Regions from separate parts of the Homo sapiens genome. Here region 2 is linked to region 1. Evidence: fine-mapped expression QTL. A gene starts in region 1. The other region holds a variant in brackets. All regions are shown on one strand. Distances are from middle to middle.

Evidence for each region. PIP is the estimated chance that this variant, and not a neighbour inherited with it, causes the effect. A credible set is the group of variants that fine-mapping cannot tell apart.
Region 2: its variant is the best candidate, but not a certain one, in a credible set for the expression of IER5L in lymphoblastoid cells (GTEx, PIP 0.58).

What each region holds. Positions count from the first base shown.
Region 1 is chr9:129,175,226-129,191,275 of GRCh38, forward strand. IER5L (immediate early response 5 like) reads right to left here and starts at 3,036. Exons shown (of 1, transcript NM_203434.3): 1 at 327-3,036. The coding sequence starts at 2,827. The coding sequence ends at 1,613. It overlaps LOC105376289 (a long non-coding RNA gene), which reads left to right and starts at 6,546. Exons shown (of 2, transcript XR_007061813.1): 1 at 6,546-7,959. RefSeq lists enhancers at 1-601, 531-590, 2,965-3,259, 2,997-3,920, 3,921-4,844 and silencers at 128-227, 801-850, 1,191-1,340, 2,291-2,630, 2,861-3,240.
Region 2 is chr9:129,258,782-129,274,831 of GRCh38, forward strand. It overlaps IER5L-AS1 (IER5L antisense RNA 1), which reads left to right. Exons shown (of 7, transcript NR_187590.1): 6 at 13-101; 7 at 220-1,816. Among named protein-coding and RNA genes, the nearest start is that of LINC02975, 16 kb to the right of the region's middle. RefSeq lists an enhancer at 1-364. The variant T/C (reference allele first, on the strand shown) is at 11,577.

The DNA.
Region 1 (16,050 bases):
GCCGACCAGGCCCTGCGCCTGTGCCTGGGCAGGAAATGTGCTGGAGGCTGGCTCCGCTTCCCGCTGGAGACCCCGGGGCGGCCAGTTCCCGTGGGGGACAGGACCCCCCTGGAGCGGGGGCGGCCGAGAGACGCGCAGCACCCGCTTCATCCCCAGCCACCAACATCACCCCCCATTCTCCCACCGCCGACCTTGCGGATGTGGGTAGATCCCGCCCGCCCAGGCCGAAGAGAACTGGGGTTTACATGGGGGTGGGCGGGGTCTCTCCCCACACCTCTCTATCCTCTCTGACGCCCCCAGACATCTGAAAACAAGGCACCACCATCTTCTGTAATCGACTTTTTATTAAGATTATAAATTTAAACAATCTGAACAGTTTTACCCGGTGATATACAATTCAGTATGCACAAAAATACAGGGTAATGAGGGAAAAGGGCCGAGAAAGGAAGGATTGGCAACTCGTTTTGGAGTCCACACGGTGCTGATGGCAGAGAACCAGAGGGGCTGCAGACGAACCCCACCTTTTTACAACAAAAGGCTTTTAAATTAAACAAATCTATCGAGCTGAAGACACAGGACGGGGTTCTCACAGGCTCGAACAATGCTGGTTTCATGAAATGCAACCGAAGGCTGAACCAAGGCAGTGCAACTTAGAAGCACACACACAAACACCACAGCTGACCAGGAACTTAGTGCAAAGTCTCCAACGCAGTCGGCGGTCCCGGCCCCTCCCTCCCCCGGGGCCGCCGGGGATCCAGGTGAAGGAATTGACTTCCTTTTTTGTTTAGTGAGGACCGCAGTGCTAGGCATGATGGGAAATGTAGTCCGCCGTGCCCGCCCCCCACCCCTTACCCAGTGTCCGAGAGTGTCGGGGTGTCAGGCGCCACCCCCGAGTCCGGGAGACGGGTGGAGGAGGGGAGGAGAACGGAGCCAGAGGGGCGGGGAGAAGAGGGGTTCAAGACACCCGCCCCGGGAAGAAAAGAAAAAAAAAGTTGAAGTGTTTTCATTTCTGCCTTCTCATTTTGAGAACTTTGGAGTCCGCCCCCAGAGAGGAAATGTGACCCAAACGTCCCTTTCGGAGATAGAGTTTGCCTTTGTTTTTGCTCAGAATTTCACAAGACCCATTCCTCACCCCACAGAGGGACTCGGGAGAGCGGAACGTCGGGCTTCCCGGGTCTGACAACTGATTGGAATCGGCTTCCCAGGTCCGGCGCCCTCCTGAGCTGCGCCCCCGGCGCGCCCCGGCGGCCAGGGCGCCCTGCCTCGCCCCCGGCTGCCCGGCACCTCCTCCGGGCAGCAGCCCTCCCTCACGTGGTAGGCTCCTCGCTAAACACCACTGCAATCACTACAATAAAAAGAAAAAAAGGAGTAGGAGAAACACAAAGCATACTTAAATAGGCGCTTTTTCTCTCTGCAAAAATAAAGTCCAAGATTTTAGATTTCTTTTTTTTTTATTTTACAATTTATAAAACATCAGCCGCCTGCCCCCGCTCGCCCCCAGCTCAGCCCCGAGTGGCCCGGCGCCCGCTCGTTCCCTCCTCTCGCCCCTTTGCCGAGTCTTTGTCTGGCCCCAGCCCCGCGGGGCCCCGGGTCCCTGTGCCCTCGGGGGTCCCTAGAAGGCGACAATGGCTCGAGTCCAGGCGCCGAGGCTGGCGAGCGCCTGCTTGGCGCACAGCTGCCCGTTGAGCGGCGGCGGCTGCTCCGAGGAGTCCGGCTGTCGGCTCACCAGCCCCGAGAAGCCGGAGCCAAAGATGGAGATCAAGTTTGAGATGTTGGACGCGTCCGGGGACGAGTCCGGGCAGAAGTCCTCGAAGCGGGCGCGCTTGCAGGGGGCGAACGGGGCGCCCCCGGGGGGCTCGGCCCCCAGCCCGCCCGCATCCTCCTCGTCGTCTTCCTCCTCCTCCTGGCCAGGGTAATACTTGCGCTTGCAGCCGGCGGCGGACGCCAGGCCCGGTCCCGGAGCGCCCTGGCCACAGCAGGGGCAGTGGGCGGAGGCGCAGCAGTCCTGGTGCAAGTAGCCGTTCTCCACCGTGGTCACCACGTGAGTGTCTAGGTCCAGCACGGTGGTCTGGCTGCTGCAGTGCAAGCCGAAGTCCGAAGGGGTAGGGTATGCGCCCCGGTAGAAGCCGGGGGAGGAGGCGGGGGCCGGGGAGGCGGGCGGAGAAGCGGCGGCGGCCGGAGGGGCGGCCCCTGGGGGCGCGGAGCAGGCGGCCGGGGCGCGAGGGTCCCGCGGGCAGAGCGCAGCGGGCGCGGGCGGCGGCAGCGGCAGCGGCAGCGGCGCAGGACCCGGCTGCAGAGGCTCCAAGGGCTGCCCGCGGTGGGGCGCGCCGTGCGGCGGCTGGAGCGCGGCGCACCCGGGCAGCTCCGAGAGCGCCCCCGCGCCGCCCGCGGGCGCTCCGGCCGCCGCCGCCGCCGCGCAGCCCCTGGGCGCCGGGTGCTGGTGCTGGTGCAGCTGCTGCTGGAGGTGCAGCTGGTGGAGCTGGTGGAGCTGGTGCAGCTGGTGCCGGGCGGCCGGCTCGCGCGCCTCCGCGTCCCCGCCGCCGCCAAGTTGGAGCGGGCCGAAGTCGGCCGCGCTGGCCGGCATGCCCGGCGCCGCGTACGCTAGGTGCTGGTGCTGGTGGTGGGGCGGCTGCTGCTGTTGCTGCTGCTGCTGGCGCCGGTAGAGCTCGGCGTAGCGCTCGCTCAGGTAGAGCTGGCGCGCGTTGCGGAGCACGTAGGACACCAGGAGGTTCTTGTGCAGCTTGATGCCGCCGCGCTGGGTTCGGGAGCTGTGGATCTTGCGCAGGGAGATGCTGATCAGGCTCTGGGCGTCCAGGGCGCACTCCATGCTCCCGCGGAGACGGCGGCGGAGCAGCCGCCGCCGCTGCTGCTGTTAACGCTTCTGCTGTTTCTGCCTCCAGCCGGCCGCCGGGGCGCGCCGGGCAGGGGTAACGGAGTCCGGGTCAGAGGTTCGGCTGCGCTCCGAAAGGAGCCGCCACCATGCGCCGCGCGCCACCCGCGGGCTCGCGCTCCCCAGACGGCGCCAAAGCAATGAGTCTCGGCCGGCCCCGGCCCCAGCTATTTAGCCGGGTGCCCGGGCCCCGCCCCACATGAGAAGAGCCAATAGGAGCTCTGAGAGTCTCCTGAGTGACAGGCGCAGCCCGCCCCGGGGCTACTCGGCTGGCCAATCAGACCAAGGCGGTTCCTTTGTGCTATTCAAATACCGAACGGACCCCGGGCCTCCAACGCCGCTGCTGCCTCGAATGTTCTCCTGGGGCTGCCGCGCCGCGCGGGACTCGGAGCCGCCGGGGCCGCAGTCTGCAGCATAGGTCGCCTGGCAGCGGCCACGTTGAAGCCCGCGGCTGCCCTCGCCTTAGGTCCCGGGAGCCGGGGGTCGGCTCACCTGAGTGCTGCGGCGACGGCTCCTCCCCTTTCCGCACGGCTGGGCCTCACCTGCGGCAGGTGCGCGCCGCTCATCGCTCCCCCAGCGGCGCGGCGCCTCCACCTGCGCACCTGTCGCCCCCCCGAGTGACCCGCGGGAGTCAAGGCCTCTCTACAGGAGGCTGGTGGAGCCGCCGGCTTGACACTGGGGAACATCAAAGGAGCGAGGTTTTGGGGGTACCCTCTACCGCAGAGAATGTAGGGCCTGACTCCTTGACTTTTTGGTCGAGGGGCCTCTGGGAATGCTTGCGGAAGGGAAGTCCTCCCCATTTGTCTGACAGGAAAAACCAAAACATCGTGAATTTTGACCTTCTCTGATGGAGAGAGTTCCGAGGCCAGGCATGACCCAGGGAGTGTGTGGACCTCGCGACCAGCTGAGGCTCAAAAGCGTCCTGGGAGCCGAAACGCTGAGTGCCCTAATCACCAGCTCTGTAACCTTTCCTTTCGTGCCTAACTAATAATAATGACAATAGGGACTATTATTATGGGCCTAATATGGGGCAGGCCCTTCCCAGCAACTCCCCAATGCCTCACTCTAACGTTTGTAGAGGAGGGGCCTGAGGCTCGGAGGAGTGGAGTGACTTGGGGAACCACACAGTTCCCAGGGGGCGGAGCTAGGAGCTGGGACAGGACCCTGCGCTCGAGACGGGAGGTGAATACCAAAGGCCCGGGGACTCACCGACTTAACTTCTGTTGACACAGCTTTCCTTCTTATCCTGAACCCTTCAGGTCCCAGCTGGGGACTGAGACAGTGGGAGAAGAGAGGGACAGGATTGCTGATTCCTGGGGGCGCTCTATCTGGACCAAGAGGCCTGAAGGGGGCTGGTTGCTGCTCCCAGGGGTTTCAAAGGTGCCTGGGGTGGGGGCTGCCCAGACAGCTCTGGAGGCTCTTGGAAATGGTCTGGAGGTTTGCCTGAGGAGGGTCCATGAGTGGATCCCTGAAGGATGAACGAGGTCTGCAGAGTCTCCCAGAGATAGGTGGACCTTGTGGGGCTGGACTCAGGGGGGAGGCCCATGACCAGACGTCCTGCTGCTTCACCGCCTCCTCAGGGGATCTTCTGAGTCTCTGCTTTTTGGGGCTTCCTTCTGAGTTCTCAGCACCTACTTCATCCCTTGGTGGGAGTGGAGAGACCCAGTAGCCCACCCTGTGGTCTCTGGGTCTTTCTTTAGTCTTAAGAATTTCCAAGATTTCTGCAAAAGTTTCTTAGCATCTACTCCATGCCAGGCGTTGAGAGTGAAGACAGAGTTAGCGGGTGTTTACTTCATTTTTCCGATGAGGAAACTCGGACACTGACAGCGTGAGACTTGCCCAAGATCACATGGCCCCAGGGCTGGTGCTGTGTCCTTCCCTTGGCCCCCTCGAACAATCTCAAACGCTTTGGGCCCCTGTGACCAATAGCACCTCTCCAGGCCTCCTCCCAGAGAAGCCAGGATTGAAATTTCAGGGGACTTCAGATAAAGGATGTCCTACCTACATTTTATTGGTGATACAGACCTACAGGCTGTGGAACTTGCTCAGGTGATAACACGTAGAAGTAAAAATACACTGCCCTTCACTTCCCTGGTGCCTGTCTTAAAGGCACACAAAGACTTTATTTATGGCCGGGCGCGGTGGCTCACGCCTGTAATCCCAGCACTTCGGGAGGCCGAGGCGGACAGATCACGAGGTCAGGAGATCAAGAGCTTCCTGGCTAACACAGTGAAACCCTGTCTCTACTAAAAATCACAAAAAATTAGCTGGGCGTGGTGGCGGGTGCTTGTAGTCCCAGCTATTTGGGAGGCTGGGACAGGAGAATGGTGTGAACCCGGGAGGCGGAGCTTGCAGTGAGCCCAGATGGCGCCACTGCACTCCAACCTGGGCAACAGAGTGAGACTCCGTCTCAAAAAAAAAAAAAAAAAAAGACTTTATTTATTTATGTTTGAAGTTCACCTTTGAGACATCACTAGCATGCAGAGGGATCTGGGAGCTCTTACCGGCTTTACAGCTGTGAGGACTCTGTATGCAACAGTGAAGTCTGGGATCCACAGTGTCTGGCACACTGCAAGCCCACAGCTCCAGAAAATATTATCAGCACTGATTTGGGGTCTTCTTTCTGTCATGGCCCAGTGTTTATTGGGGGAAACTAAGAGTTTACACACCTTGCTTGAGGTCACATACCAGCAAGGGGTGGAGTCAAGATCTGAGCCCAAACCCATCTGTTTCCAGGGTGGGAGTTCACCAGAGGTTCCTCCAAATCAGCTTCCGCTGTCAGTGGAGCCAAGGCCAGTTCTCAGGGCCCAGCTCTTGGTGAATATGATCTTGGTTTGATCGACCCCCACCGCTTTACTGCCAAGTGCTGTGGGACCAGGGCCCATAAGGAAGCAAATGTCAGTCTCAGCCTCAGCCCCTCATTCAGAGCTGTACCCCAGAACATGAATCTGGGGGCCCAGATGGGGAAACAGGGCAGGGATGGAGGTGGATTTCCACCTACAGGTTGGGGGCAGAAGGACCAGGCCCCTCACATGGGCAGCTCCTCGTGGCACCTCCTAGTCCCCCACAAGGTGAGTTTGGGGATCTTTGAAGTTCCTTTCATTCACTGGGGCCAGCTGAGAAGTGGTCAGCCTCTTCTGGGTGGCCCCATCCTCTGGGTCTGTTGGGGGCCCACACTCTGTCTCTCCTCTTTCTCAAGAACTGAGAAGTGGGCTAATGGGGAGGGCTCAGCAGTTGTGCAGCTTCATAAAAACCCTTGGTCTTTTTTGAGGTGGGCTGGGAAGGGGAGGCACCACAGCTGTCGTCAGGAAAACCTTGCTGAAGGAGGCAATGGAACAGCTGCACTATTTGGTGCCCGGGGGAGCGGTGTGGCTTGGGGGGCACATAGTAGGAATTCACAAACGTTTATAGAATGGGTGGTTTGCATGCCAGGCTTCTGCTGGGATGCATAAAGGTTCAGGGCAGCCAGTGTGTGCATGTGTGTGAGAATGTATGTGCCCACGTGTCAGGAGAAGGTACCCTCAGATCTGCACCCCACGAAGGGGAATAGGCCCAAACGAGACAAGGATGAAGGGCTGGCCTTATTTCTCTGTACACCTGAGAAAGGTTGGGGATCTCACCTTTCCCCCTGGAGCTGGGGAGGTTACATCTGGCACAGAGTCACTGCTCCCTGGAGGAAGTTAATTAATGCCTCAGTATTTACCAAGTGTCTGCTGGGGCAGCATGGAGCTGGGGCATGGAACCGCTGGGGACCTGGGCTCCCATCAAACCCCAGGTGGTGTCAGCCCTCCATCAGAGCAGTTAACACTTCACAAGTGCACATATGTCTGTGGACACCTTCTGGTCACCCGGGCTTGGTGGCAGGGGACATGGTTAGGAAGGCCCCTGATCCACAGTGGGATTTGCCCTGTTGGCTCCCGGGGGTTAACTTGGGGAAGGGGTCCATAGGCAAAAAACTGTATTGGGGTGTTGTGTTGGAGGAAGTGGGAGAGAAACTTGGAATTCACACATTCATTCATTTTTCATTTGCCTGAGAGATACTTCCAGAATCCTTCTCTGGAGTCCCTGGGAATGGGTCAGGGAACAAGATGTGATTCTGCCTTCAGAAGGCCACGATTCAGAGGGAAGCAGACAAGCTAGATAGACCAGAAAATACTGAGAGCTAAGTCTGTGATTGGAAGGACAGGGCTGGAGGAGGGCAGGTCCAAGGTCCAAGGCTGGTCTGGGAAGTGAGAAGCTGAGACCTGGAGACCAGGAAGAGGGGGGATCTTCTAGCAGCGAGAACAGCAACGAAGGGGCCCAGCCAAAGGCCGGGTCCACAGTGGGCCCTGACCTGTGGCATGAGTGAATCAATGAACCTAAGGATGCAGACAACATTGCTAGTTTGAAGGGCCCTGGAGACCAGATTGACCCCCAGCCTCAATTTCCAGATGGGTAAACTGAGGTCTGGAGAAGAGGAGGGATGTGCTCTGTGTTCAAGACATGGGACCACAGCTGGGGTTGGAAATCAGACGTCTCACCTCCGGGTCCTGCCTCTAGCTGCCCTAGTGCACTGTGTCTCTGGCTGGGAGTGTGGCTTGTTCCAGAGGGGTGGGGACCGAAACCCAGGGCTTCGGGCAGTGGCAGGGAAGGCAGAGGGTGTGGCTGGCCACAGGGGTCACTGTTGAGTCTTCTCTTTCTTAGGCTGAGGAGCCAGTGGCGCTGTAGCTGGTGGACACTGGGGAACGAGGCTAGGGCTGCGGATCTGGGGTAGCCTCCGCTGGCCCCACAGAACTTGCTCCCTGTCACTGGCCCGGGTGGAGGTTAATGACCCCCGCCCTTCGCTGTTGTCTGTGTTTTCCTAGCATAGTCCTGGGCAATAGGCCTAGTGCCCAGAAAGCCACTGTGGCCCTGGCTTCAAGGACCTTAAGTGTAATGAGAAAGACTGACAGTGGTTTGGCTCTTCTTGGAGCTCTCGCTCTTACCAGGCACTGGACCAAGTCTCCCTGAATTTCCACACCAACCTTTGAGGCAGGTTCAGTTATAATTCCCATTTCATGGATGGAGCAACCGAGGCACAGAGAGCTTGGGTGAGTTGCCTGTTCACACCGAAAGGAAGGAGACGTCACAGGGCTCTGGGGGTGGGGGGCGGGGCACTAGGAACTTCGGGAGAGGAATGAGGCTCTTTCGTTTGTCGGTCCTCTGGGTGAATTCTGCACTTGTCCATGGAGTGTGCATAGGGTACAGATGTGATATCTCACATCTGGGGTCCCTGCTCCAGCATCTGGCAAAGGCTGCGTGTTCATTTGTTCATTCATTCATTCATTCATTCATTTATTCACCATGGGCTGAATGCTGGCTAATGTGTAGGGGCTGTGCTAAACTGTGAGGAGCAGGGCAGGCAGATGTCACTCCCCTGAGCCATGCTGAGGCATCCTTGATTCTTTGGAGCCAGATCTGATTGACTAGTGGTGTCTGCCTGGAGCCCTGGGTGCTCCAATTGATTAGTGATGTCTGCCAAGGGCTCAGCTGGAGCTTTTAGGGCAAGCCTGCTGGGAGGTGCTCTGGGGTGAGGATGGGGTGTCCTTCAGTGCTCTGCACATCTGGGTGGCCTAACAGATAGGGTGGAGACTGGGGGGATGGGGGCTGGAGAAATGGGTTCTAGCTTCAGATTGGCCTTGTTATCCTTAGGGAACGCAGATTGCTTCTCTCGGGCCTCAGTTTCCTCATTTGTCACCTGACTCACAAGTGCTTTGAACGTTGAGAGGCACTGTGAAGGGATTAGTACTGAGCTGAGACCGGAAACTTCCCCTGCCCTCTTTTCTCCTTTCTCAAGATCCTGCCTGGAGCTGAGCACTCTGGGCAGGCCAGAGTTAATCCTGGGCCGGGCTGGTGTGTGTGTGTGTGTGTGTGTGTGTGTGCAAGAGTGTGTGTGTGAGTATGCGTGTGTGCATGTGAGTATAAGAGTGTGTGCATGTGTGTGCACATGTGTGAGAGAGAGTGTGTGTGTGTGTGTGGTGGTGGCAGCTCAGCTTTCCTGGCTGAGTTGTTTATAACTCACTCAGTACAGACCTTTGTCCCTTCCCCAGCTCAGCTGGGAGTTTCTAAGGAGTGAGAAGCTCCTTGAGTCTTAGGAATCCTATAATTTTTTTTTCTTTTTTTTTTTTCATTTGAGTGGTGGGAGCTGGCGTACGTGCCTCTCTCCTCCCCACTCCCCACTCCATGAGTAATAACTGTAGACACCATCGTGTCAGGCCCAGGACAACGTGTAACATGTATTATTTGTCATTAATCCTCCAAAGGATCTCACGAGGCGATGGTACTGCATTCCCCCTTTCCCAGACTGAGACCTGGGGAAGTGAGGTTGCACACCTGGAGCCACACCTCTCTCGCTGCTATGTGGGTCCCATCCTCTGGTCTGAGCTTCATCCATCTTTGCCAGCTGTGCTTCGCCCTGGCTCTTTCCACCATTCATTCATTTCCTCACTTGCTCAGTGGTCCTTTCACAAATATTAAGTGCCTACTGTGTGCCACAGCAGCCCCTGCCATCGTGAGCCTCATGTGCAGGCATTCCAGATGGAAAAACAAGCAAGCAGTAAGTAAGCAGATAAATAAATAAGCTTGCGAGGAGGGGATAAGGGAAGTCAGCCAGGCTTGGGGTGGGGCCTAGAGGGAGGGGAGAGTGTCTGGCTCCCAGGCCTCCCACCACCGTCTGGTGCTCCCTGGTGGGCCTGTCCCCCTTCTCAGCTCCCAGACTCTCCAGCCGTCGGTTCTGAAGCTCAAGCTGCACTGGTGCCCCTCCTGCTCCCCACCCTAGTGAATTCTTAATGCTACTTGCACGGAACAAAGCAGTTTTGGTTTTCGTTTTGAGAGCATTTCTCAAAAAATCATTTCTCAAGTGTGTGTGAGGAGAGAGTAGGAGAGCACAGCGAACCCCGGCTGTCTGCCCTCAATTCCTCTCCCAAGCTCCTTTTCATTCCTGTTTAATTTTTTTGAAAAAATGGGGCCAATTAGAATTTCAGTTCCTGACCTTGTGTTGGTGAAAGGGCACCAGGCAGGGCCCTTGACATCTGTGTCCTGTGTCCACCCAGCCCCTTGGGGGCTCAGGCGCTGTCATTGCCTTCGTCATACAGATGAGGAAACTGAGGCATAGGAAGAAGTTTCCGGTCAGGGGCCTCCCACCGAGTGGCGGACTGGAGCGGGGCATGATCCATACTCAGACCTCTCAGCCAGCCTCTTTCCGTACTCCACACTGGCTAGCCCATCACACACACACACACAGACACACACACATGCACACGCACACATCCTACACATACACAAACATGCATGCACACACACGCACCCAAATGTACACATGCTCACAGAAACATACACAAACACATGCACACACCACACATGCACACACAGACACACAAACATGCACACACATGTGCACACACAAACATGATGCGCACACCCACACCCACATATACACATGCTCACACGCACACACACCCTGCACACACCACATATGCACACACATGCACACACAAACATGATGTGCACACAATGCACTCACATATACAAATGCCCACACACATGCACACACACACCCTGCACATACACAAATGCATGCACACACACAGACACACAAACATGCAAACACATGCACACGCACACACCCTGCACACACACACACGGCACACACACATCGTACACACACAGCACACACACGCACATGCACTCACACACACACTTGGGGCTAAGTGAGCTGCCCACAGTCACAATGCCGGCCTCAGGAGGGTAGAAACGAGGGAGGGCGCCTGGCCTGTGGCTTCAAAGGGGCAGAGAAGAGGAGGGAGAGAGATGTGCATTGGGGAGAGTGGAACCTCGTGGTTTGAGGAGGGGGCAGGGCCTTCTCCCAGAACTGACCCCAGAATGTGGCACAGTGGGTCTCTCTGTCTTGTGTCCCGGGTGATGGCCCCCAGTACCCTCTCCTTAGTTTATTTCCTGAGTACTTGCCGTGTCCTCGCCACTAAGTTTTTTGCTTGATGAATCATCTCTGTGAATCCTCCTGATAGAATCTGCAGCAGAGGTACTTTCATTACCACGCCCATTTCACAGGCCGGGAGGCTGAGGCTCAGAGAGGGTAAGCGACTGCACCTTAGACTGGCTTGTCTCCACAGCCAGCTTGCTTAACCCTGACACCTGGCAGGGGAGGGGCGGGGGGCAGGCACTTAACGGGAAGCAGAAGGTGGCTTCCAGGACTCAGAATGGAGGCGCGGGAATATCTGTGTAACCCTGACAATCCTCTACGCTGCTCTTGCTCATTCTTGCAGCCTGGTTTCATGGGTTCCTAGTGCTCTGCTCCGTGGCTGCTCCTCCAGGGACAGCTGCAATGGCCCAGCCTGGTGTCTCATCTTCCCTTCTTGCTGCCTTCATCCTTCCTCATGGCAGCGTCTCTCCTCAGTTCCTGATTTTTCTGCTTGGCAACGAGGACATCTTATTTATTTATTTTATTTATTTAAGAGGGAATCTCACTCTGTTGCCCAGGCTGGAGTGCGGTGGTACGATCTTGGCTCACTGCAACCTCCACCTCCTGGGTTCGAGTGATTCTCCTGCCTCAGCCTCCTGAGTAGCTGGGATTACAGGCGCACGTCACCACATCCGGCTAACTTTCGTATTTTTAGTAGTGATGGGGTTTTGCCATGTTGGTCAGGCTGGCCTTGAACTCCTGACCTCAAGTGATCTGTCCACCTCAGCCTCCCAAAGTGCTGAGATTACAGGTGTGTGAATTACAGGCGTGTGAGCCACCACACCCGGCCCAACGAGGACATCTTTAGTCCTATTGCCTCATTCGTAAGAAAATGGAAGGGATTTTTATAAAGGGCTGTGTGAGATGAGCTATGCTTTGTTGCAGTAACAAATAATTCCTGCTGGACAGTGTGGTTCACCCAGCTACTCTGAAGGCTGAAGTGGGAGAATCTTTTGAGGGCAGGAGTTCAAGACCAGCCTGGGCAACATAGTAAGACCCCTGTCTGTAAAACAAAAACAAACTTCCTGCATCTTTGAGGCTTGATCCAATGAAAGTCTCCTTCTTTCTCTTTTTGAAGGATGTTATATGGGGAAGCCCTAATTGGCATCCCTCCCTTCCATTGGCCAGAGCTGGGTCATGTGTCATCAGCTAGCTGCAAGGGAGCCTGGGAAATTTAGTCCTCAGGTGTGCTCCAGGACTGGCAGCCCTATTTCTCCACATCCAAATGACCTGGTTCAGTGAATACACAGCGTTGCCACTGACACAGGGCCTTGAACAATGAAAAAGTGGATCTTTGACTGGTTCATTGATCACAAAAATAAGCTATGATGCTCTCAGCTGGTGGTAGGGGTGAGGGCATAGTGGGCACCTCTCATCACACAGCTACTAAGAAAATGTTTATTTTTTAACCTGTCTGTCCATCTCCCCCATTAGACTGTAAATTCCCTGAGGACAGGTCCATAAGTCTCTGCTTGGCAGCTTCCTTAGTCCTTGACAAATAATAGATGCCCAATTAGTATTTTCTCAATGAACAAACATTGCCTTCTTGAAAGGATTTTGGTGAACAACTGTTTAGCTTCTCATGCATCAGATGTGTACAAAAATATATTTTCACATCACAGCAGTCTAGCATGAAGCCCTTTTTTTTTTGAGACAGGGTCTTGCTCTGTTGCCCAGGCTGGAGTGCAGTGGTGTGATCGTGGTTCACTGCAACCTCCGACTCCCGGGCTCAAGAGATTCTCCCGCCTCAGTCTCCTGAGTAGCTCGGAATAAAGGTGCACGCCAGCATGCCTGGCTAATTGTTGTATTTTTTTTTTTTTTGGTAGAGATGGGGTTTTGCCATGTTGCCCAGGCTGGTCTCAAACCCCTGGGCTCAAATGATCTGCCTCCTTAGCCTCCCAAAGTGCTGGGATTACAGGCATGAGCCACCATGCCTGGCTGAAGGCCCTCTTTTAAAAAAAGTTTTAATCAGTCTTGTCCTTCTGCTAAGGTTGAGCACTGCTGTTTAATCAACAAGCATCATTCTTTTATTTTTCTTGAGACAGAGTCTTGCTCTGTCGCTCAGGCTAAAATGCAGTGGTGCGATCTCGGCACACTGCAACCTCTGCCTCCCAAGCTCAAGTGATTCTCCTGCCTCAGCCTCCCAGGTAGCTGGGATTACAGGCGCCCAACAACATGCCGGCTAATTTTTGTATTTTCAGTAGAGACAGGGTTTCACCATATTGGCCAGGCTGGTCTTGAAGTCCTGACCTCAGGCGATCCACCCGCCTCGGCCTCTCGAAGTGTTGGGATTACAGGCTTGAGCCACTGCACCCGGCCCCATTCACTGTTGATTCATTCACTGATTCTTTGATGACTAGAGGGATGGATCGATTCACTCCTTCAGCGGACATTTGTTGAGTATCTACTATGTCTGATGCCCTTTCCAAGACAGAAGAGAAGGGGAAGGGACAGTGGCTTGCAATATACCCACAGAGACGGGGTTTTCTAATTGTCTAATGAAATCGATAATATTTAATTCTATGAAACCACAGCTTGATGGTCTCACCGTAATATCATACACTGAATTTAATCTATTCTAAGTCACCACCTTCCTCCCATATCTAACATCTCTAAAATTGAGAAGTGTCTTACCATTGATAACACCTTCGATTTGGCAAAGTCAGGCCATTATACTCATTGGACTAGTTAACGTTTATCTATCTATCTATCTATCTATCTATCTATCTATCTATCTATCATCTATCTATCTATCTATCTACCTATCTGATGGAGTCTTGCTCTTGTTGCCCAGGCTGGAGTGCAGTGGCGTGATCTTAGCTCACTGCAACCTCTGCCTCCCGGATTCAAGTGATTCTCCTGCCTCAGCCTCCCGAGTAGCTGGGATTACAGGCGTGTGCCACCACACCCCGCTAATTTTTGTATTTTTAGTAGAAACGAGGTTTCACCATGTTGGTCAGGCTGGTCTGGAACTCCTGACCTCAAGTGATCCTCCTGTCTTGGCCTCCCAGAGTGCTGGGATTACAGGCGTGAGCCACCACGCTCGGCCTGTTCATTTACTTTTTTATAGCCTAAGTGAACACTGAGATAATGAACATTTACAAGGCAGGCATGACATACAGCATGCCCCATCATCTCACACTTAGTGACTAGTTAGTTCTGTCCCTGTGTTGGTTAGGGCGGCCTATTAGGGTCACGGAGAGGGGAAGGGAACCATTGTTTCTTTCGAACTGAGTATATATTTGGCAGTGTGCTTGTTCATGACACAAGATTTTTAAAAACACCCCACCAAGCGCTTGTATCATCTCCATTTTACGGGGGATTTTAAGAGACCAGGGCTTTGCTGGAATCCCTCATTGGAAGAGCTGCGGTTCCAACCAGTGCTGCCCTATTCCGGAGCCCATACTCTGAATCACCCTCCACTGCTGCGTGCAGATGCCCACGCTGGGATGCAGTCGCCAGCCCCATTTCGAAAGAGGGAACTGAGGTCCACAGAGCTCACCTGCTCTTCTTAGACTCACAACGTCAGAAAGTCATAGGGCTGGGGTGTGAACCCCAGTCTCTTATTTCCCAGAACCCAAATGCTAATGGCTCTACTCTCCTGCATCTGGCTTCCCCAGGGCCTTAAAAATGAGGCTGGACTGACAGGGGGAGGGTCCTGAGACCAAGCCTGGAAAGGGAGTCTCTTTGAGCCCTTCTGTCTTTAAGATTCGGGATGAGGATGCCCGGGGCATGCCCGCCATGCCCACTAGGTTAGTTTTGGGCCAGAGGGAATCAGATTCTGATGAAGCTGAAAAGGCAGCTGATAAAATGAGTGACAGCAGCCTTTCTTACAGCATCAGAGGGGCCCGGTGATGGGAGGCGATCCTTGTGAACATTTTAGTGGGACTTAAGCAGTTTTGGAAACTCCATAACTAAATTTGATTGTAAACAAGCATGAGAATAGGCTGGGTGGGGTGGCTCAGGCCTGTAATCCCAGTGCTTTGGGACAGCAAGGCAGGTGGATTGCTTGAGGCCAAGAGTTTGAGAGCAGGCTGGGCAACATAGCGAGATCCCATTTCTACAGATAAAAAAGACTTAAACAAGGCCAGGTGCGGTGGCTCACACCTGTAATCCCAGCACTTTCGGAGGCCGACGCGGGTGGATCACGAGGTCAGGAGTTTGAGACTAGTCTGACCAACATGGTGAAACCCAGTCTCTACTAAAAATGCAAAAATTAGCTGGGTGTGGTGGCAGGTGCCTGTAATCCCAGCTACTCAGGAGGCTGAGGCAGGCGAATTCCTTGAACCCGGGAGGCAGAGGTTGCAGTGAGCTGAGATTGCGCCACTGGACTCCAGCCTGGGCGACAAAGCGAGACTCCATCTCAGAAAACAAACAAAAAACAACAACAAAAAAAATCCAAAGACTTAAACAAAACTTTAAAAAATGTGTATAGCTCTGACAGTAGGCTTTGTGCTGAACTCCCTGGCATGGGTTCCACCTCTTCTCTGTTGAGGAAGAGTCCTGCGGTTTAGGTGGTATTGGCCTCACTCCCCAGTTCCAGGACTGGCAGCCCCATTTCCCCACTGGGCAGGAGTGGGACAGAACCCAGGTCTAAAGACAACCAACACAGAGTTTAGGTACTATTTGATTCCTATGAGGTAGGAATTTCCATCAGCTCCATCTTACAGATAAGAAAACTGAGACTCAGGCTGGCTGCAGTGGCTCACGCCTGTAATCCCAGCACTTTGGGGGGCTGAGGCGGATGGATCATTTGAGGTCAGGAGTTTGAGACCAGCCTGGCCAACATGGTGAGACCCCGTCTCTACTAAAAATACAAAAATTAGCCAGGTGTGGTGGCGCATGCCCGTAATCCCAGCTACTTGGGAGGCTGACGCGGGAGAATTGCCTGAACCAGGGAGGCAGAGGTTGCAGTAAGCCGAGGTTGGCCACTGCACTCCAGCCTCGGTGACAGAGTGAGACTCTGTCCCCCCTCCAAAAAAAAATGTGGAGAGGAGACACATGGAGATGACTTGAATCTAACCCACAGCTTGGAACGTGGTTTGGCTGATTCACAACTTGGAACAAAACTACCCAGTTGAGCCCAGGCTAGACCAGGCAAACTGCAGTCAACTTACAGACCCATGAATGTGAGAATAAATGTTTGTGCAGGCCTTTGAAAATT
Region 2 (16,050 bases), 84 kb after region 1:
TTTATTTTGAAGGAAAGGGAAAAAAGGAATTGCTACGGAAAGAGAGGTGGGAGAGGAACCCAGTCAATTTCACCTGCTCCCCTTCCTCCAGGAAGAATCGGGTACGCGGGCATCTGAGAACCCGCAGGGTTTCTGCTTATGCCTCCCGGCCCTGAGTTTCTAACCCCACATTGACCTCAGACCTTGAGGTTTAAATTCTGTTTCTCTGTCTTGTTCTAGAACCGAAAGCTTAATAAGTGTGGTTGTTTTGATATTCGAATCATGAGACCCAAGGCATCGTAGGGGACCTCGCCTGCATCCATTCGCCTATCCATCCTACAGCAGCGACTGCACCCCTGATTGTGATGACGAATGCACCCCCATCCTTGGGCTCCGTGCCCACTGCTGGGCTGGGCTGCTCCCTCAGGTGCGGCAGCCAGAGGAGGTGTGGACTCCCATCCCACGCGTTTATCCTCCTGCAGCCTCTCGAGCTTGGTGGCATAGCCGTCCTTCCAGTCCCCAAGCCAGATGTCCTTGATGCCCCTTCTCCCAGCCCCATCCCCATCGCCAGTTGTATCAGTTTTCTATTGCTACTGTAACAACTCACTACAAATTGAGTGGCTTAAAACAACACACATCTACTCTCTTACAGTTCTATAGGTCAGAAATCTGACATGGTCTCAGAGGGCTAAATTCAAGGTGTCTGCAGGACAGTGTTCCTGCTGGAGGCTCTTGAGGGAGAATCGGTTTCCTTGCCTTTTCCAAGTATAGAGGCCGCCCACATTGGCCCCCTTCCGTCTTCAAAGCCAGCAATAGCTCCGAGTCTTTCCTCCCTAGCATCGCTGTGACGCTGACTCTCCTGCCTCCCTCTTCCACATTTAAGAACCTTGTGATTACATTGGTCCTCCCAGATAATCCAGAATAATCTCCCCATCGCAAAATCAGCTGATTAGCAACCTCAATTCCACCTGCAACCTTAATTCTCCCCTGTCATGAAATATAAGAAGGAGATCCATATGTTCCGGGGATTGGGATGCAGACATTTTGGAGGCATTGTTCTGCCGACCACGCCATCCTGACAGTTTTACCTCTGGAATCTCTGCAGTCCACCTCCGCCTCGCCATTCCTGCACCACTCCCTTTCTGGTTACCCGCTATTTTCCCAAGATGCCTTCAGTAGCACCTATCCACTGTTGTCATCTCTCTAACCTCCCTCTGTCCACAGTCCCCTGGGCCCCCACTCCAAGACAAAGATGCAGATGTCGCTACTTCCATGGCACTGTCATCTGCAAGGGAGCATCCTAACTCTCCTTGGGCACACACAGGCCCTCAACCTGCCCTACCCCATTGGTTCCTCCGGATCCATGACCCCTCCCACCCTCCGCCTCACACCCCTGTGCTCCCTTAATAGTAAATCACTTCTGGTTCTCTTAAGATCCTGGGGCATTTGGTTCTTCCTGGCCTTGGCCTGTGTGGCTCCCATTCTCTGAACTGTCCTGCCCACCTTTATTCGCCTCCCCCAGGAAGCCTCCCTGACCCCCCAGACCCTTTCATTGCCCTCCCTTGGAACAGAAATGTGCTTTTCACTGACTGGATTGGCCCAAAGAGATCTGAACTTGAGGCTGCCTCCTCATGTCACTGAGAGCCCTCTGGGGTGGGCACTGTGCCTTGCTTGCCTCTTTGGTCATAGTGCCCAGCATGAGATTGGTCACATAGTAGGTGCTCAATGAACTCAGATTGAACTAAACTCAAGGACTTGGTCGGGGGGTGGTGGTGGTGAGAAGACCAGCTGGGCTGCTTGGGGAAGTAAAGTATAAAGTTGGATGGAAAAGCACGAGGACCTTGGCTCTATTTCTGGTTCTTGGGGTGGAATAATAATGACAGCAACACCAATGGTGGCTGGCCCCAAAGGTCGTCCCGTGCCAGGCATAGGCTAAGTGCTTTATGAGAACATTATCAATCAATTCCCACAACAGCCTTAAGAGGTACCAACTTTATCAGCATCCCCATTTTAGAGATGAGGGCCCTGAGGCTGGGCCAGGAAGTTATCTTGATCTTGGCTGTCCCTGATTGGAGGGGTGGTGGGAGTTGGGGACGGGCGGCTCTGGCAGAGACCTGCAGGGAGGTTGCAGCTGGCCTGGCCTCTGGAAACAGCCACCTTAATGCTCTGCCCTGAAGCCTCTTTTTTTTTTTTTTTTTTTTTTTTTGAGACAGAGTCTCGCTCTGTCACCTAGGCTGGAGTCCAGTGGCATGATCTCAGCTCACCGCAACCTCCACCTCCCAGGTTCAAACGATTCTTCTGCCTCAGCCTCCCAAGTAGCTGGGACTACAGGCACATGCCACCACACCCGGCTAATTTTTGTATTTTTAGTAGAGTTGGGGTTTCACTATGTTAGCCAGGATGGTCTCGATCTCCTGACCTCGTGGTCTGCCCCCGCCTTGACCTCCCAAAGTGCTGGGATTACAGGCGTGAGCCACCGCGTCCAGCCCCCCAAGCCTCTTCTTTCCTCACTTCCTGTTCTCTGTCCTCATTATTCCACCAGTCTATTGTCATTTTTTTCCCCTTCCCAGCCTGCCCAGCCAGGATATGCGGCAGGAGGTTCATTTTTGAAAGTATAAGAAGGGCCGCCGGGAATGAGTGTCTCACGGGGACAGAGTGTGCGTTTGGGAAGATGAGACGGTTGTGGAGATGGATGGTGGGGATGGTTACACAACAACGTGAATATGCTTAAAGCCACGTTCACGGAACACGTACAAATGACTAAAATGGTAACTTTCTGGTATGGATATTTTACCACAATAAAAAAAAAATGCTAAAAAAATTGTAAAGAAAAAGTGCTTTGTGTTTGCCGAACTTTTGAGGATGGGCCGCCCACTGCACATTTGCCGTTTCCCAAGCGCCTCCCACGGGCCAGGCCACGCACTTCCTCCTTTCATTCTGGAAACAAGCTTGAGGAGAGAGGTGGCGTCCTCCTTGTAGACGAGACTGAGGTTCAGAGCCTGGCAGGGGCGAGGCTGTCTTTGCAAACCCGACAGGCCTCTCTCTGGTTCTAAGAAGCACGGCAGGGACGGGGTAGGAATTTGGGCTCAAAATGGGCCTCTGGGCTGCGGAATCTTGAGCAAATTGCTTCCCATCACTGATCTTCCTCTTCTGACTATTGGGGACAATAATAGTGTCCTCCCTCGTGCAGGGGGAGGATTTGCTGAGATGTCGGAAGGTCCTAGCACAGCATCTTGGCCACCATCAAAAATAAAATTCTCCCCAGAGCTCTCCACGATGCCTCCCTTGCTGTCCAGAGGACAGAGGGCTGGAGGTAAGGTCAGGAGACCCGTGTCAGGGTCTCAGCCCTGAGGCTGACTTTGTCTGTGACCTTGGGGAAGTCCCCTGCCTTCCCTGGTCCTCAGGCTGCCCTCTGTAAAGTTAGGAGAGTGGGTAGAGTCAGCAGGGCTCTCTGGTTCTGGTTTTCTGGGGTTTCTCCCGTAATCCTGGTCCTGTCCAGAATCAATGTCCTCTCTCCCACCACCCGCTCTCTGGGCAGAGGGGTCTGGGCCCATCTCCAGTTCCACCTTTGCCCTCCACCCTGTCTTCTCAGGAGCGTCCAACCCCCAAGCAAGAGGAAAGGGAGGGGAAGGTGAAGGCAACAGAGTTCTTGATCCCAGGGTATGAGTCGCTGCCTAACACCCAGACCTGGCTTCTGACAGAAGCGCCAGCAGGAATTTCCCGCACCTCCGGTGTGAATCCTGTCCAGCTTCCTGCCATTGGCTTGAATTGTTGCCTGGTAACTCTAGGTGCAAATCACCCCTTCCCCGCAAACTACATGCTTTTTTTTTTTTTTTTTTTTTCTGAGACGGAGTTTCGCTCTTGTTGCCCAGGCTGGAGTGCAGTGGTGTGATCTTGGCTCACTGCAACCTCCGCCTCCTGGGTTCAAGCAATTCTCCTGCCTTAACCTCCCCAGTAGCTGGGATTACAGGCATGTGCCACCACGCCCGGCTAATTTTTATATTTTTAGTAGAGATGGGGTTTCACCATGTTGGCCAGGCTGGTCTCAAACTCCTGACCACAAGGGATCTGCCCACCTTGGCCTCCCAAAGTGCCGGGATTAAAGATGTGAGCCACTGTGCCTGGCCTCCCCACAACTACATGTAAGTTTCAGGATCTCAGAGACACGCTTCCTTTTGCCTGTCTCTTCTACCGTCTCCACAGGACTGGGCCAGGGGGGTGCTCCCGAGATATCCCACAGTTTTAGAGGGCCATTTAGCTAGGATCCTGGACGCTGGGAGCAAGAAAAAGAGAAAAATGGTGATTCCAAACTATAGGCTTCTGGAGGAAGAACACGTGCAGGGGAAGGCAGGCAAGGTCAGCACTCTGGGGGCTCCAGCAGATGCCAGGATGGTGCACACCGAATTCCTGGCACACGGGGGCTTAGTGACAGGACCTGGGCTATGGTGGTCACTGATAAATCATAATATTAAGAAACTCTAATGGGACATCCACAGGTGCTGGATGGAGAAAGGTAAGCATTTGGAGACATTTGACCACGATGATAATTTTCACACTAGGTGATGTTTTAGGGGTGATCACTGCATTTGAGGCACTGTGCTGAGCACTGACAGTCAAATTTCGTTTACATCTTAGAATGAGGCAGAGACTGTTGGCTTCTGCATTTTACAGATGGAGGCTGTATTAGTCTGTTCTCACATTGCTATAAAGAACTACCTGAGACTGGGTAATTTATAAAGAAAAGAGGTTTAATTGGCTCATGGTTCTGGGTAATTTACAAAGAAAAGAGGTTTAATTGGCTCATGATTCTGAAGGCTATATAGGAAGCATGGCTGGGGAGGCCTCAGGAAACTTACAGTAATGGTGGGAGGCGAAGGGGAAGCAGGCACACTTACCTGACTGGAGAGGGGAGTGGTACTGCCTACTTTTAAACAACCAGATCTTGTGAGAACTCACTCACTCTCATGAGAACAGCAATGAGGAGGTCAGCCCCATGATCCAAACACCCTCCACCAGGTTCCTCCTCCAGCACTGGGGATTACAATTTGACATGAGATTTGGGTGGGGACAGAAATCCAAACCGTATCAGAGACACTAAGGCTTCGGGGAAGCTGTGCCCAAGGTCACACAGCTGGTAATGATGCAGGGCAGGTGAGCCCCCAGATTGGGGCTTAGCCCTGGAGGGTTCTTGGCTTTGCCCAGGAAAGAATTCAAGGGTGAGCCGCTGGCATTAGGCAGCAGCTTGTATTGAGAAGGCTGTGCACAGCGGCAGCAGAGGTTCTGCTCTTAGTGGAACAGGGCTCTCCCATGGGCAGTGTGCCCAGAGTAGCAGCTCAGAGGCCGTTCTGCACTCATATTTATTATACCCACTTTTATTTTATTTTATTTTACTTATTTTAAGGTGGAGTCTCGCTCTGTCACCCAGTCTGGAGTGAAGTGGCACGATCTTGGCTCACTGCAACCTCCACCTCCCGGGTTCCGGTGATTCTCTTGCCTCAGCCTCCTGAGTAGCTGGGATTACAAGCACCCATCACCACACCCAGCTAACTTTTGTATCTTTAGTAAAGATGGGGTTTCACCATGTTGGCCAGGCTGGTTTCGAACTCCTGACCTCAGGTGATCTGCCGGTCTTTGGCTTCCCAAAGTGCTGGGATTACAGGTATGAGCCACCGTGCCCGTCCAATATACCCACTTTTAATTATTTCCAAATCAAGGGGCAGATTTTGCAGCGATTTTGAGAAAAAGAGTGGTAACTTCCCAATGATTGGGTTGTTGCCATGGAAAGGGGCAGTAACTGCCAGGTGTTGCCATGGCAATGGTAAACTGACATGGCACACCAGTGGGCGTGTCTTACAGAGAAGTGCTTTTGTCCCTTCCCTGTTTTAGCTAGTTCTCCATTTGATCAGGTGTTTGAGCCCCACCTCAGAGTCCAGTCCTGCCTCCTACCTCACGAAATGGCTGAGATTGAGAGACACATGTGGGCTGGGATTGAGGAAGGCCCAGAATTAGGGAGTAATGGGGTTTGGGGAGGACAGTTTACTGCCCAGGCTTGGTGGGGGTGGTGGGGAGTTGGTGTTCAGTCTAGCAGGTGAGAAGCAGCCACAGTGGGCCAGGGATAGGGGAGCATCGGAAATCACAGGGATGAGAAACAGTACTGAACAGACTTCTCCAGCCCTGACCAGACCTCAGTTCAGCAGGCGCTCAAATGACCATAGGTCCTATGAGGGAAGCTCTAAATCAACTTTCAAGCAAGAAAGGGAGCCCCCTGCTCCTCCATCTCATCCAGCCTCCTTCTATTTATTTATTTATTTATTTGAGACAGAGTCTCTCTCTGTCGCACAGACTGGAGCGCAGTGGTGAGATCTCGGCTCACTACAACCTCCGCCTCCCGGGTTCAAGTGATTCTCCTGACTCAGCTTCCCGAGTAGCTGGGACTACAGGCATGGGCCACCACTCCCGGGTAATTTTTGTATTTTTAGTAGAGATGGGATTTTACCATCTTGGCCAGGTTGGTCTTGAACTCCTGACCTCAGGTGATCCACCTGCCTCTGCCTTCCAAAGTGCTAGGATGACAGTCACGAGCCACTGCGCCTGGTCCACCAGCCTCCTTCTAGAGCTGAAACTGACTGTGAGAAAATGTGGGCCTTCATCAGAAAATCCATTCATTCATATGCTCATTAATTCACTATCTACTAAGCAGCACTCTGTGCCAGGCACTGTTCTCGCCCAGAAACACAGCAGGAAAAAGAGACAAAACTTTCTGCCATCATGGCCTCTACGTTCTAGTGGAGGGAGATGGACAGTAAGTGAAAAACTGCGTACGTTATATACTTTATTAGAGGTGACAGATACTATACAATGGAGAAAAATAAAGGTGGGGAGGGCAGAGAGAGTCCCAGGAAAGGTGGTTTGTGATGTAAAATAAGGGGGATGGGCATGGTGGCTCACAAATGGGGCGTGGGCAAGATGAGCCTGGAGTTGACAAGGAAGGGTGGGCTTAAGCGATTCTTGTGCCTCAGCCTCCCGAGCAGCTGGGATTACAGGTGCGTGCCACCATGCCAGGTTAATTTTTGTTTTTTTTTTTAGTAGAGATGGGCTTTCACTATGCTGCTCAGGCTGGTCTCAAACTCCTGGCCTCAAGTGATCTGTCTGCCTCAGCCTCCCAAAGTGCTGGGATTACAGGCATGAGCCGTTGTGCCCGGCTTCGGTTATCCTTTTTTATATGGTGAAAAAAGTACACAACCATAAAATATACCATCTTCACCATTTAAACAAAAAATTTTTTGAGACAGGGTCTCGCTATGTTGCCCAAGCAGGAGTACAATGTCTATTTGCAGGCATGATCATGGCTCACTGCAGCCTCCAACTCCTAGGCTCATGCGATCCTCCTGTCTCAGCCTCCTGAGTAGCTGCGACTACAGTGTGTGACACTGAGCCTGGCTCCGGCTTCACCATTTTTCAGTGTGTATTGCAGTGGCATTAAGAACATTCACATTCTCTGCAGCCATCACCACCATCCATCTCCAGAACCTTTTCATCTTCCTGAACTGAAACACTGTACCCAGTGAGCACCACCTCCTTATTCTCCCCTGCCCAGCCCTGGGCAGCTACCATCTGGTTTCTAGCTCTATGAATTTGACTGCTCTAGGGACCTCATATAAATGGAGTCATACGGTCTTTGTTTTTTTGGGTGTCTGGCTTATTTCTCTTAGCATAATGTCCCCAAGGTCAGTCCACACTGTAGCAAGAATCAGAATTCCCTTCCTTTTAAGGGCCCTGTGATATTCATCAATGACATATCCTTTCCAAGGACACGAGTCAACTTGTAACAGTGCCCAAGGCCTGAGTCTCAGTCATTTCAAGGATTTTAGAGGCCACAGACATGGGGAGGAAGGAACCAGCCAAGAAGCTTGAGGAAGCATGGCGGTGAGGTTGGAGGGGAAAGAATCATGAGTGCCTGCAGCGGGTATCGAGGCAGAGGGAGTGATGCCAGGGCCACAGCCTGCTGAGGGTCAGGGAAGAGGAGGCTGGAGATCCACCATCGGATGAGCAGTGGGAAGGCCATTGATGAGCTTTACAAGAGCAATGTTGGTGGACAGAGGGTGTGGCACCTGTCTGGAGTGAGTTCTGGGAGCCTGGGATGAGAAGAAGCAGACACAACAGGTAGAGAACTCTCTCCCTCTCTCTTTTCTTTTAGAGACAGGGTTTTGCTCTGTCACCCGGGCTGGAGAGCAGTGGTGCCATCATAGCTCACTGCAGCCTCAAACTCCGGGCTCAAGCAATCCTCCTACCTCGGCCTCCCAAAGTGCTGGGATTACAGGGGTAAGCCACTGCACCTGGTCAACTCTTTTGATAAATGTTGCCATAAAGGGGAGCAGAGAAATGGGGTGATGGCCGGAGAGAGGGGTGCAGTCAGAGGCTTTGCCAAGGTGGGAGTGGCCGCGGCCCTTCTGGATGCTGGTGAGAACTGTGCCGCAGGGATGGGACTGTGGGTGATGCAGGACAGAGCAGGACTGGAGCTCCTCCTCCAGGGGAGTTGGGATCTGGTGCAAGACAGGGTTGCCTGGGGGCCTGAGTGTCGATGTCTGGAAGCAGGAAGGTGGCTGAGGGACAGGCCCAGGCACCCAGGGGTAGAAGCCAAGGTGACCGTCCCTGGGTTTTATCCTTCTTGTCTCTGTCCCTCTGAAATAAAAAGCAGGGTCGCCAGGTGAGAGAGAGTCGGAGAGATGGTGTGGGTGGGCGAGGGACGAGGAGGAGGGCTGGACTTGTGACCCAGCAGGGGGCAAGTGGATGGGCAGGGAAGGAGATTTAACCGATGGAAATCATGCCGGCTGTGCACCTGCTCTGTGCCAGGAGTCATGCCAATAGCACTTCCACGTTTTCTCATTTAATTCTCCCAGCTCTCTATGTGGTGTCTGTCATTTTTATTTTCCATTTTACAGAGGTGGAGACTTTAAGTCTGAGGAAGGTGCCATGGTCTGAATGTGTGTGCCCCTCAGATACATGAGTTGAAACCTAACCCCTAAGGTGGTGGCATGAGGAGGTGGGGCCTTTGGGGGTGACCTGGTCATGATGGTGGAGCCCTTAGGAATGGGATTCATGCCCTTATAGAAGAGGCCCCAGAGAGCTGTCTTGTCCCTTCCACGTGAGGATGCAGAGATGTGGTGCTGTCTATGAACCAGAAAGTGACCCTCCCCAGACACTGAATCTGCTGGTGCCTTAATCTTGGACTTCCAGCCTCTAGAACTGTGGGAAATCAATCTTTGTTGTTTTTCTTTACTTTTTTCTTTTTTGAGACAGGGTCTCACTCTGTCGCCCAGGCTGGAGTGCCTGGCACAATCACCGCTCACTGTAGCCTCAACCTTCCTGGCTCAAGCGATCCTCAGACTCCTGAGTAGCTGGGACCGCAAGTGTGCACCATGACACCTGGCTAATTTGATTTTGATTTTCATGTTTTATAGAGAAACGGTCTTGCCGTGTTGCCCAGGCTGGTCTCCAACTCCTGGGCTCAAGTGATCCTCCTGAAGTGTTGGGATTACAGGCATGAGCCACTTTGCCCGGCCTAATCTCTATTGTGTTTTATTTTTATTTTAAATTTTTTCCCTTTTACTACATATGTAACAAAACTGCACTAATCTCTGTATTTTATAAGCTACCTAGTTTATAAAACTAGGCAGTTTATGGTATTTGTCTCAGCAGTCCAAACAGACTAGCATAGAAGGTGATACAACTTTCCTTCGATTATATAACCTGTAAGACTGACCACCAAACAATCCTGTCCAAATCCCAGAAGAAGCCTGAAGACTATTTTTTCAATTATAAAATTACATTTTTCCCTCTCTGTAAAAGTACTAAATGTTTATTTCAGAAAATTAAAAAATTCAAAGTAAGGTAAATATGAAAAAAAAATTAAATGCTTATAGTTTCACCATCCAGGAATAATGACTGTTAAATGGGGTGATTTCCTTGCAGTAATGTTTTTTATACATATTAACTGGCAGACGTGATGCTGTGTGTTCAGCAAATCCTGTTTCCCTTCTCCTCTGACATGCAGCTAGACTACATTTCCCAGCCTCCCCTGCAAGGAGAGTGTCACATGACTGGGTCTGACCAGTGGAATGTGGGAGAAGGTAATGTCCCTTACTTATCAGCCTGTTCCATAAAATCTTCTATTACTCCTTCAAGTTCTCTCTTCTTTGGATGCTCTCAGGATGGGAAGGACCCAGTGAAGGACCTAGTGAAGGACTCCAACACCCTAGTGAGCAGCCAAGCTGCTAGATGGAAGAAACCAGGGTTCCCAAATGACCCAGTAGAGTCAAGACTCTTCCCAACCCCTGCTGCCCAACATTTGACAGTGTCTTGGGGAGAAATGAACCTTAGTTGTGTTAAGCCATTGAACTCTGGGAGTTGTTGGTTAAAGCAGTTAGCCTTACACAGCAACATCATGTAAATATTGGAATCATATTACAGATACCCTTTTTGGCAGGCCAGGGGCAGTGGCCCATGCTTGTAATTCCAGCATTTGAGGCTAGGAGTTCGAGGCCAGTTTGGCCAACATGGCAAAACCCCATCTCTACTAAAAATACAAAAATTAGCCAGGCGTGATGGCACATGCCTGTAATTCCAGCTACTCGGGAGGCTGAGGCATGAGATCACTTGAATCCGGGAGGTGGAGGTTGCAGTAAGCTGAGATCATATCACCGTACTCCAGCCTGGGTGACAAAATGAAACTCTGCCTCAAAAAAAAAAGATACCCTTTTAGGCTGATTTATTATTATTGTTACTATTACTTAACATTTATCACAACCTTTCACCATATTATTAAATCACTTTTTTTTTGAGACAGAGTCTTGCTCCATTGCTCAGGCTGAAGTGCAGTGGTGCAATCTCGGCTCACTGCAACCTCCACCTCCCTGGCTCAGGTGATCCTCCCACCTCCACCTACCAAGTAGCTGGGACTACAGGCGCCTGCCACCATGCCCAACTAATTTTTGTATTTATTTATTTATTTTTGAGATGGAGTTTCGCTCTCGTTGCCCAGGCTGCAGTGCAAATGGCGCGATCTTGGCTCACTGCAATCTCCGCCTCCCAGGTTCAAGTGATTCTCCTGCCTCAGCCTCCCGAGTAGCTGGGATTACAGGCATGCGCCACCACGCCTGGCTAATTTTGTATTTTTAGTAGAGACAGGGTTTCTCCATGTTGGTCAGGTTGGTCTCAAATTTCCAACATCAGGTGATCCGCCCACCTCGGCCTCCCAAATTGCTGGGATTATAGGCATGAGCCACTGCGCCTGGCCTAATTTTTGTATTTTTAGTAGAGATGGGGTCTCACCATGTTGGCCAGGCTGGTCTTGAACTCTTGGCCTCAAGTGTTCCGACTGCCTCAGCCTCCCAAATTGCTGGGATTAGAGCCATGAGCCACCATGCTGGGCCCATATCATGAAACCACTTTTGACAGCATAATTTTAATGGTGGCACAGAGTCCGTTATCATTATTTATTTACCCAGTCCCGTGTGGATATGTAGGTTGCTTCTGACATTTGCGTTTGTATGTCATGCTCCAGTGAACATCCTGGTGATCAACTGGGTGGCCCCATC[T/C]GCAGATGCACTTGTGAAACCTACCTTGGTTTCCTGCCTGAGCCTCTCCTGTATCGGTGCTTAAAAGGGTGCCCTAACTCTGCAGAAACTATCAGTAGAAATGAGTGTAGGGGGCCAGGCGCGATGGCTCACGCCTGCAATCTCAGCACTTTGGGAAGCCAAGGTTGGTGGATCACTTGAGGTCAGGAGTTCGAGACCAGCCTGGCCAATATGGTGAAACCCCGCCTCGAATAAAAATACAAAAATTAGCTGGGCTTGATGGCGCGAGCCTGTAATCCCAGCTGCTTGGGAGGCTGAGGCAGGAGAATCACCTGAACCTGGGAGGCAGAGGTTGCAATGAGCTGAGATTGCACCATTGTACTCCAGCCTGGGTAACAGAGTGAGACTCTGTGTCAAAACAAAAAAACAGAAGAGTGTAGGGGGTGAAATGTACGTTCTTGGGCTAAGTTGTGTGAAAAGCCTGGATTTTCCAGATCTGATCTCCTTTTGCCCTGTGCCCCCTTTCCTGCTGATGTCTTGGCAGTGGGGAGAGGAGGGGTGACAAAACCGAAAGTCTCTCTTTTTTTTTTTTTGTAAAGTCGTCTCTTACAGGAAAATATGTGGTCCTTTCAAAGCCCTATCCCTTGTAAGGGTGGTTTCTCTGCACTCGGGGGGGTCTCCCTCCTGTTTCCTTTTGAAGATGGTGTCTGGCTGTGTGGAGAAGCTTGCATGGGCCAGGACAGGAGTCTCTTGCCCTACTTGCCATCACTGGACCTGCTCAGGAGGGGCGGGTCTGGTCTGCCCTGGTCTCCGGGAACCGCATCCACGTTCTCTGAGGCTGACTGGACTTCGCTTTGCCCTGAAAACTTCCAATTCACAGTCAATCTTCTTCCCATATGTTGTTTTTTTCTGTGGCTGCTCTAATAAAGTCCCACAAACCCGGTGGTTGAAAACCACAGAAATGTGTTCTCTCACAGTCCCAGAGGCCAGAAGTCTGAAATCAATGTGTGGGCAGTGCCGTGCCTCCTCTGAAACCTCTAGGGGAAGGTCCTTTCTTGCCTTTCCGGCTTTAGCCCCAGACTTACAAATGCATCTCTCCACTCTCTGCCTCCAATGTCACATGGCATTTTCCTCTTCTTCTAAGAACACCACTCATATTGGATTAGGCCCCACCTAATGACCTCTTCTTAATTATATCTGCAAGGACCTTTATTTCCAAATAAGGTCACATTCACAGGTACTGGGGGTTAGGGCCGCAGCATATCTTTTTTGGGGACACACTTCAACCCATAAGACCATCCCATTCAGTTCCTGGGCTTCCTCCACTCAGCTGCAGGGGTTGGGGGTCTCTGTGAGACTGTCCTCAGCCCCTCTGCCTGGGGACTGGGGACCCTCAGTCATTTCCATCTGCTGCAGCCTGGCCACACTGGGTGCAATGTCAGGCCTAAGGTGAGCCTCGCAGACCCCTTAGGATGCATCCTGGGGACATAGGCACCAGCTCTGATGTCCTCGGATCCCCCAAACCTATCTGAATCTTTCTACTGCCCCCAGACGCCTCACGCCTGACTTTCAGCCTCCCTTCCCCTCCTCCTGCCCTGAAAGGGGCTTCCAGTCCCCGCTGCTGTCTAGCAGGGACTCTCCTTTTGTCACAGTCCCCTTCTTCCCTAGTCAGGGATGCAGATGGTATCCACACGGCTCTTCATGGGACCAAACGCTTCATGGTTTAAGTTTTATGGTAGGGAGATGCTGGGGAGAGAGAAAATGTACTGAATTAGCAACAGGGGAGACACAGCAGGAAACATTTCCACAATTCTATGCCTGTTGAAATGATTTTGATGTTGAGCCCTATTTGCCTTGACCTTTTTTCTTGTTTTTTTTTTGAGATGAAGTCTTGCTCTGTTGCCCAGGCTGGAGTGCAGTGGTGTGATCTCAGTTCACTGCAACCTCCACCTCCCGGGTTCAAGCAATTCTCCTGCCTCAGCCTCCTGAGTAGCTGGGATTACAGGCATGCACCGCCACGTCATGCTAATGTTTGTATTTTTAGTAGAGACTGGGTTTCACCATGTTGGCCAGGCTGTTCTTGAACTCCTGACTTCAGTGATCCGCCCATCTTGGCCTCCCAAAGTGCTGGGATTACAGGGGTGAGCCACTGCGCCTGACCTTGCCTTGACATTTGAAAGGCTAAACAAGGCAAACCCTGGCCTTATTTCCTCCCCCAGCCCAGTTACCCGCTCAGCCAGCCCAGCCATGCTTCCCAGTCAGTCTCCCACTGCTCCTGGCCTCTTCTGGCCCCTTGGCACACGTTCTCATTTTCTGGAACACTCTTCCCCTACCCCCTTCCCTGGGCAACTCCTCCTCATGCTTTGGGTCCCAGCTTGTACAATACTTCATCGGAGAAGTTGCCCCCCATGCCCCAGACACATGACCCCCACCATGGGCTGCGTGTTTTATATTTGTGACCCTCAGCGGACCACAAGCTCCATGAGGGGAGGGGCCATGTCATTTCCTTCACCTCTGCTGTTCCTACTACTGGCACTTGTAGTGAGGTAGGGTGGGACTGGACTCTGGAGGCAGACCTTGGACACTGGACCAAATTGACCTTGGACACTGGACTAGCTAAAGCAAGCCTGGGGTGGAAGCACCTCTTCATAAGGCTGCCCACCAGTGTGCCATGCCAGTTTACCATTGGCATGGCAACACCCAGAAGTGACTGCCCTTTCCATGGCAACAGCCCAATGATCTGGAAGTTACCACCCTTTTCCTAGAAATTTCTACATGAACTGTCCCTTAATTTGCATATAATTAAAAGTGGGTATCACTATGAGTGCAGAATTGGATCTGAGCTGCCACTCTGGGCACACAGCCTGCGGGGGAGCCCTGCTCTGCAGGGAGCAGTTCCTCCGCTGGGCTAGGCATGGCCACTTTAATACAAGCTGTTGTCTAACACCACCAGCTCACCCTTACATACTTTCCTGGGTGAAGCCAAGAACCCTCCTGGGTTAAGCCCCAGTTTTGGGGCTCATCTGCCCCGCATCAGTAGGAACCCACCAAGTGTGGGAAGAGGGAATGGAAGCCAGCGGAAGTGATGCCATCATTTTGTATGATGTTTACTCCGTGAAAGTGCCGACATGCAGCTGTTGTCAACCTACAAACATGGCAACTGCTTATGATCAAAGCCCTCCTCAAGCCCCCACTTTTGGTAGACCCCCATCACTTGGTGATGGTCAGCTCGTCTGCTGGGGAGGGGAGGCTGCAAATGGTCTGTCATTTACCGGGCATTTCCTTTCTCCTCTCGAGTTGACAACCGACCCTTTCAGGCTCAGCCGGTTCTACCTTGAGTGAGAGCGTGAGTGTGCGATGAAGTAGCTCCCATGGTTTAGCTAGCTGCTCTCCATGCCCTCCCTCCACACCCTGCTGAGTTCGCTTCATGCATCTTGTCTTAGAGCAGCTTGGAGACTGACCACTATTTGAGCCAGTGTACAGCAGCAGTGAAGAGCAATGGATTTGGTATCAAACAGCCCCCAGCATGGGGCCTGGCACACAGTAGGTGTTCAATAAATGCTGATGGAATTATGAAAAACAAATTGGGATTTGTGTCACAGCTCTGCTACTTATTGGCTTTGAGACCCTGGGCAAGTGACACATGCTCTCTGAGCTCAGCTCCTCCCGTGGTATCTGGAGACCCCCGAGGTCAGCCTCACCCAGACACCTTCCCAGCTTCATCTCTGACTGCACTCGTGTGCTTCAGCCAGACACACCACTTGCTGTTTCTGTTCCAACCTCATCCGTCTTCCAGGCTCCTTGCTCCTTTCAGGCCGGCCCTTGCACCTGGACCGATTTTTACCAAACGAGGTGATGTGTGTCAAAGCACATTGGCGATGGATGGCTACTATCAAACAAACAGAAAATAGTAAGTGTTGATGAGGATGTGGAGAAATTGGAGCTCTCGGGCATTGCTGGTGGGAATGAAAATGGTGCAGCCGCCGTGGAAAACAGCATGGCAGTTCCTCAAAAAAAGTAAAAATAGAATTACCATATGATCTAGCATTTCCACTTCTGGGTATATACTCAGAAGAATTGAAAGCAGGGTCTCAAAGAGAGATCTGTGCACCCATCGTCATAGCAGCATTATTCGCAATAGCCAAAAGGTGGAAGCATCGATGGGCGAATGGATACGCAAAATGTGGTGTAGACACGCAAGGGACTCGGATTCAGCCTTAAAGAGGAAGGAGGTTCTGACACACATTGCAGTGTGGATGAACCTTGAGGATATTATGCTAGTGAAATAAGCCAGCCCCAAAAAGTTAAATGCTGTATGATTCCACTTACACAAAATACTTAGAGTCGTCATAATCATAGAGACAGAGAGTGTTGCCAGGGGCTGGAGGGAGCGGGTAACGGGAATGAGCGTTTACTGGGGACAGAATCTCATACTATAAAGATGAAAACTTTCTAGAGATGAAGGTGGTGATGCTTGCACAACCACGTGCGTGTA